Linked DNA regions of Homo sapiens. The gene in region 1 interacts genetically with each later gene. Each region holds a gene or a part of one and is shown in the gene's direction. Other genes may lie near its edges. The genes, in order: MED13 and RB1.

What was found.
Region 2: changes in MED13 (region 1) and RB1 together harm fitness more than expected from each alone (negative genetic interaction), as found in Homo sapiens cells (one large-scale study listed by BioGRID).

The regions. Positions count from the first base shown.
Region 1 is NC_000017.11:61,981,736-61,985,566, reverse strand, and holds part of MED13 (mediator of RNA polymerase II transcription subunit 13), read left to right. Parts: intron 1-476; coding exon 477-567; intron 568-701; coding exon 702-916; intron 917-1,199; coding exon 1,200-1,396; intron 1,397-2,452; coding exon 2,453-3,369; intron 3,370-3,831. UniProt on the Homo sapiens protein: Component of the Mediator complex, a coactivator involved in the regulated transcription of nearly all RNA polymerase II-dependent genes.
Region 2 is NC_000013.11:48,478,119-48,481,949, forward strand, and holds the end of RB1 (retinoblastoma-associated protein), read left to right. Parts: intron 1-1,860; coding exon of another isoform or gene 1,861-1,879; coding exon 1,880-1,953; 3' UTR 1,954-3,772; downstream 3,773-3,831. UniProt on the Homo sapiens protein: Tumor suppressor that is a key regulator of the G1/S transition of the cell cycle. The hypophosphorylated form binds transcription regulators of the E2F family, preventing transcription of E2F-responsive genes.

The DNA.
Region 1 (3,831 bases):
CCCGAGTAGCTGGAATTACAGGCATGCCCCACCCAGCTAATTTTTTGTATTTTTAGTAGAGATGAGGTTTCACCATGTTGGCCAGGCTGGTCTCAAACTCCTGGCCTCAAATTGATCTGCCTGCCTCAGCCTCCCAAAGTGCTGGGATTACAGGTGTGAGCTACCATGTCCGGCCTCTTATTACTGGGTTTTAAGTTAAGGTTAACCTTACTTCTGTGTATTTTGAAAGTATTGGTCATTTTCTTTGGAGGAACTTTTTCCTTTTAATTTGGAGGCTTACCAAATAAATTAATCTGGAGTCAGTGATTAAGAAATATTTTATATCTTTCAACACTAGTATGTATTTGGCTGTATCACAGATTCAAAATACTACTTTTAATGAATGGGCTTTACTGTTAAGTTATATCTGAATGATTACTATTTTGAGATCACATTGGATGTAAAATTTTAGATAAATATGTGCTTTTTTTAAATAGCCTGGATCTAAAAAATCAGCAAATGGATCAGATGATAAAGCCAGCTGCAAGGAATCAAAGACAGGAAATCTGGACCCGTTATCTTGCATAAGTAAGCTTCCCTCATCTGTGCTCGAGATAAATTTGCGAACTTTTAATCTCAACAAAGCTCCCCACTCCTTTTGGTTTAAACACAGATTCGCCTATTTTTAGTCATGTTAAAATGTATGTTTTTATTAAATATAGGCACTGCAGATCTTCATAAAATGTATCCTACACCACCATCATTGGAACAACATATTATGGGATTTTCCCCAATGAATATGAATAATAAAGAATATGGTAGTATGGATACAACACCTGGAGGAACTGTTCTAGAAGGAAATAGTTCTAGTATAGGAGCGCAGTTCAAAATTGAGGTTGATGAGGGATTCTGTAGCCCCAAACCTTCTGAAATTAAAGTAAGTATGTTTTTTCTAGAAAAATAATTCACTTCCTATATTTTCTTATAGAATTAATTTGTTGCTATAGTCAAAAATTATTTTATAGTGGTTGCGGTTTTGTAGCTAAGTTGAGGACTGAATTATTGTTGTCACTATTAAGAATGCATTTAAGAAAATAATAGAATTGTATTTAGATTTTATTCTGTTTAAAGAAAGGAAAAAAGGTCCAGAGCCTGTTTGTTTATTTATTTTTTCCTCCTAGAAGATAAGATACTGAAAACCTACCATCTTTATATTGTAGGATTTTTCTTATGTCTATAAGCCTGAAAATTGTCAAATTCTAGTGGGATGTTCCATGTTTGCACCTCTAAAAACTCTACCAAGCCAATATCTGCCCCCTATCAAATTGCCAGAAGAGTGTATTTACCGTCAGAGTTGGACTGTTGGAAAATTGGAATTGCTTTCTTCAGGGCCTTCAATGCCATTCATCAAAGAGGGGTATGATTTATGTTGTTACAATAGTATGTGACTGCTTATACAGCTTTAATTTTTTTTTCATAGATTTACCTGGTATGCTGGAAAAATAAAATTGGTTTTTGAAAATTCTAAAAATTATTTCTGGTTAATCAATTATAGTGATTGGCTGGGAGCAGTGAATCACGCCTGTAATTCCCATACTTTGGGAGGCCAAGGCAGGCGTATCCCTTGAGGTCAGGAGTTTGAGATCAGCCTGGCCAACATACGAAACCTCGTCTCTACTAAAAATACAAAAATTAGCCAAGCGTGGTGGCGCATGCTTGTAGTCCCAGCTACTTGGGAGGCTGAGGCACAAGAATGGCTTGAACCTGGGAGTCAGGCATTGCAGGGAGCCGAGATCGCACCAGTGCACTCCAGCCTGGGCAAGAGTGAGACTTTGTCTCAAAAAAAAAAAAAAAAAGGTTAATTGGGTATGGATAAACTATTAGGAAACTTAAGACTATTATGCTTGATTTGTATTCCGAAGCACCTTTTCTTTTGGGCTGCAATTTTAAATTGCTCCCATTTTTACATTTGCCATCTTTTCCACACTTTTCACATTTTAACATCTCTGACTTGGTCAGTTTCAACTCAAGGCTAAAAGAAATCTGAATCTGAGATGTCTTATAAGTGGTAGCATTTTAAAATTACCATTTTTCCCTTTTTACACATGAGCATCTCTAAAATCATTTTTCTTTTTTTATAGTCAGTAGCATCTTAGAATCAAGGAAATATAAGTATTTCTAGTAAACAAAATTTATAGATAGTAAATATGGATGTCTAGGTATGCATTAGTGTATAGAGTGCTTATTAATGATTTTTGAACTTGTTAATTGATCCTTAGTCAACAACAATCACTTAGAGTAGATATGTTAACCAGAAATAAGAATTGACTGTGCTTGTAATTCTTGCAATACTTGTCCTTTCATAATTTTCTATGTAATTGAAAAACATTTGGGACGTTTTTAGTTGTATTTCACATTACTAATATGTTCCTTTATATATATATTTGATCTTCTTTTACCCTGGTGATGATAGTGATGGAAGTAATATGGATCAAGAATATGGCACTGCTTATACACCTCAAACTCATACTTCTTTTGGGATGCCTCCTAGCAGTGCACCTCCTAGTAACAGCGGAGCAGGAATTCTTCCTTCTCCATCCACCCCTCGGTTTCCAACTCCAAGGACTCCAAGGACTCCTCGGACTCCTCGTGGAGCTGGTGGACCTGCTAGTGCTCAAGGTTCAGTCAAATATGAAAATTCAGACTTGTATTCACCAGCTTCTACCCCATCTACATGCAGACCCCTTAATTCTGTTGAACCTGCAACTGTCCCTTCCATCCCTGAAGCACACAGTCTTTATGTAAACCTCATCCTTTCAGAATCAGTTATGAATTTGTTTAAAGACTGTAACTTTGATAGTTGTTGCATCTGTGTTTGCAACATGAACATCAAGGGTGCCGATGTTGGAGTTTACATTCCAGATCCAACGCAGGAAGCACAATATAGGTGTACCTGTGGCTTCAGTGCTGTCATGAACAGAAAATTTGGAAACAATTCAGGATTATTTCTTGAAGATGAACTAGATATCATAGGACGCAATACAGACTGTGGCAAAGAAGCAGAAAAACGTTTTGAAGCTCTCAGGGCTACCTCTGCTGAACATGTTAATGGAGGACTAAAGGAATCTGAAAAATTATCTGATGATTTGATATTATTGCTACAAGATCAGTGCACTAATTTATTTTCACCCTTTGGAGCAGCAGACCAAGATCCTTTTCCTAAAAGTGGTGTAATTAGCAATTGGGTACGTGTTGAAGAGCGTGACTGTTGCAATGACTGCTACCTTGCATTAGAACATGGGCGTCAGTTCATGGATAACATGTCAGGAGGAAAAGTTGATGAAGCACTTGTGAAAAGTTCATGCTTACACCCCTGGTCCAAAAGAAACGGTAAAGTATGCCAATAAAATACTTTTTTGTTTGCTTATTTCCCTTTAGTTACATTCTTAGGAAAAAGTAATAAAGGCAGTTTCCCATGTGGCAAATACATTTAAAGTTGGACTTAAAACTCTTTATGGATGATGTTTTTAAAGGGAGAATTTCTTAGCAGTTTAGTTTAATTTCACCAATAAAAGTATGGTTATTATAAATCTGTAATTATATACTTATGTAGGAATATGAAAGGCACATTCCATATATTTATTAGCATAACATTGCTAGTGGTCTGCTTTATTCAACATTCTTTCACTCATTAAGTATTTACTGGGCACCTTGTATGTGCCAGGTATTAGCCTAGATTCACTGTTGAACAAAGCACACATATTCTTTGCCCTTTTTGAATCTATAATTTAGTGGAGAAAATAGGAAATAAACAAAAAAGCATATAATAGATAGTAAGAAGTAATTTGGAGG
Region 2 (3,831 bases), on another chromosome or scaffold:
AAGGAACTGGGATTTTGAAAGAAGACAAATATTCAGGAGATAGGTGTTAAAACAATCATTCCTAGGTCACAGGACACACTAATGAGAACAATACCAATTAAAATGAGAGGCTTTCTTTTAATACATCTTTGTAGATACTAACTTTGAAAATAAGATATTTAAAAGGATGCTTTTTTTCTATGTATTTTTTTAAAGTGTAATTAAAACTAAATAACTAAAACAAAATTTTCTAGTTATAAATGAATCTCTTTTTGGATTTTATGTCAACTTACATATTCCTATTTTAACTCTTAAATAGTTGCATCTTTTCCCCTCAGTACATGAAAATAGACAAGAGGCTCATAACCAAAATCAGGCCTTGAAGACATATGGAAACATTTTGGAACCCACAAATATGCACTTAAAAAGGAGCTGAAAGCTGTAAAAACATGTATATTTTCTTAGAGAAGTGTTCAGTTGCTATAGTTAGTACATTTCCCAGTGACACACTTAGCTATGATGGCGAGCTTCCTCTGCCAGGCCAAAGTTCAGGACCTTTGTGCATCTACAAAATTGTGACAAAGCAGGCAGAATTTTAACCCCTGAGGCTAAGGCATTTCTTTAGGATGCTCTTCAGCTTTTCTTAAAGAATTACATTTAGAAAAGATCATCATACAATGCTGGATTGCCCAGAATGGAAGGGCATTCCATTTTTCCAAATGTGCTTCTTTATAAAGAACTCATGCCTACCTCTAAAATCAAGTTAAGAATTTTTAAGAAATTTAATAAGTATCCCGGCTTTGTCTATATTGTAATTCATAATATGCTTTTAACATGGCCATGCCCCGGGTAGGCATGATGGCTTATGTCTGTAATACCAGCACTATGGGAGGGCAAGGTGAGAGGATTGCTTGAGGCCAGGAGTTCAAGACCAGCCTGGGCAACATAGCAAGACCCCATCTTTACAAAAAAATCCAAAAATTAGCCAGGCCTGGTGGCATGTGCCTGTAGTCTTGGCTACTGGAGAGGCTGAGGTGAGAGAATTGCTTGAGCCCAGAAGGTCAAAGCTGTAGTGAGCCATGATCATGCCACTGCACTCCAGCTTGGGCAACAGAGCAAGACCTTGTCTCAAAAAAAAAAAATCCATGCCCAGTTTAAATGAGCTATGATTTGATGTATTTGCAGTACCTGCAAGGCATCTGCAAACATAAGGGAACCTATAGCTTTGTAAAGAATACCACCACTCACTCTGGCAGATTCAGTCTGGGCCAGCCGAGTATTCTAGTCTGCTGAAGTATATGCCAAGCATCAACCACCTCATCTCTAGAATAGTGGCCTACAAAATGGGGCATACCTGAAGTATGCAAAGTCATCTTTTGGGGTACATAAAGTAGAAGTTCTATTTATCTCATTTTAATGTTTGCTTGGGGTATGTGTTTTATAATTTGTACATACATACGTATTTTTGTGGTACAGGCTTGGAAAAAAATTTACTCACAGGGATATATGATTTTTAAAGATTTGGAGACCACTGTTTTTTTGGGGGGTGGGGAGGGAATTTTTTTTTTAATTGATATATCATAGTTATACATATTTTAGGGGTACATGTGATGTTTTGATACGTGTACACAATGTGTAATGATCAAATCAGGGTTATTGGGATATATATCACCTCAAACATTTTTCTTTGCATTGGGAACATTACAATTCTAGCTATTTTGAAATATGCAGTAAATTAACTGTAACTCCCTACGGTACTGTCAAATACTAGAATGAAGACCACTGCTTTTGCAAGGTCCTGAGCGCCATCAGTTTGACATGAGCATAATATATATGGCAGCCACTTGCCAACTTACCCAGTACCATCAATGCTGTTAACAGTTCTTCATCCTTTTTCCAGCTTCTACTCGAACACGAATGCAAAAGCAGAAAATGAATGATAGCATGGATACCTCAAACAAGGAAGAGAAATGAGGATCTCAGGACCTTGGTGGACACTGTGTACACCTCTGGATTCATTGTCTCTCACAGATGTGACTGTATAACTTTCCCAGGTTCTGTTTATGGCCACATTTAATATCTTCAGCTCTTTTTGTGGATATAAAATGTGCAGATGCAATTGTTTGGGTGATTCCTAAGCCACTTGAAATGTTAGTCATTGTTATTTATACAAGATTGAAAATCTTGTGTAAATCCTGCCATTTAAAAAGTTGTAGCAGATTGTTTCCTCTTCCAAAGTAAAATTGCTGTGCTTTATGGATAGTAAGAATGGCCCTAGAGTGGGAGTCCTGATAACCCAGGCCTGTCTGACTACTTTGCCTTCTTTTGTAGCATATAGGTGATGTTTGCTCTTGTTTTTATTAATTTATATGTATATTTTTTTAATTTAACATGAACACCCTTAGAAAATGTGTCCTATCTATCTTCCAAATGCAATTTGATTGACTGCCCATTCACCAAAATTATCCTGAACTCTTCTGCAAAAATGGATATTATTAGAAATTAGAAAAAAATTACTAATTTTACACATTAGATTTTATTTTACTATTGGAATCTGATATACTGTGTGCTTGTTTTATAAAATTTTGCTTTTAATTAAATAAAAGCTGGAAGCAAAGTATAACCATATGATACTATCATACTACTGAAACAGATTTCATACCTCAGAATGTAAAAGAACTTACTGATTATTTTCTTCATCCAACTTATGTTTTTAAATGAGGATTATTGATAGTACTCTTGGTTTTTATACCATTCAGATCACTGAATTTATAAAGTACCCATCTAGTACTTGAAAAAGTAAAGTGTTCTGCCAGATCTTAGGTATAGAGGACCCTAACACAGTATATCCCAAGTGCACTTTCTAATGTTTCTGGGTCCTGAAGAATTAAGATACAAATTAATTTTACTCCATAAACAGACTGTTAATTATAGGAGCCTTAATTTTTTTTTCATAGAGATTTGTCTAATTGCATCTCAAAATTATTCTGCCCTCCTTAATTTGGGAAGGTTTGTGTTTTCTCTGGAATGGTACATGTCTTCCATGTATCTTTTGAACTGGCAATTGTCTATTTATCTTTTATTTTTTTAAGTCAGTATGGTCTAACACTGGCATGTTCAAAGCCACATTATTTCTAGTCCAAAATTACAAGTAATCAAGGGTCATTATGGGTTAGGCATTAATGTTTCTATCTGATTTTGTGCAAAAGCTTCAAATTAAAACAGCTGCATTAGAAAAAGAGGCGCTTCTCCCCTCCCCTACACCTAAAGGTGTATTTAAACTATCTTGTGTGATTAACTTATTTAGAGATGCTGTAACTTAAAATAGGGGATATTTAAGGTAGCTTCAGCTAGCTTTTAGGAAAATCACTTTGTCTAACTCAGAATTATTTTTAAAAAGAAATCTGGTCTTGTTAGAAAACAAAATTTTATTTTGTGCTCATTTAAGTTTCAAACTTACTATTTTGACAGTTATTTTGATAACAATGACACTAGAAAACTTGACTCCATTTCATCATTGTTTCTGCATGAATATCATACAAATCAGTTAGTTTTTAGGTCAAGGGCTTACTATTTCTGGGTCTTTTGCTACTAAGTTCACATTAGAATTAGTGCCAGAATTTTAGGAACTTCAGAGATCGTGTATTGAGATTTCTTAAATAATGCTTCAGATATTATTGCTTTATTGCTTTTTTGTATTGGTTAAAACTGTACATTTAAAATTGCTATGTTACTATTTTCTACAATTAATAGTTTGTCTATTTTAAAATAAATTAGTTGTTAAGAGTCTTAATGGTCTGATGTTGTGTTCTTTGTATTAAGTACACTAATGTTCTCTTTTCTGTCTAGGAG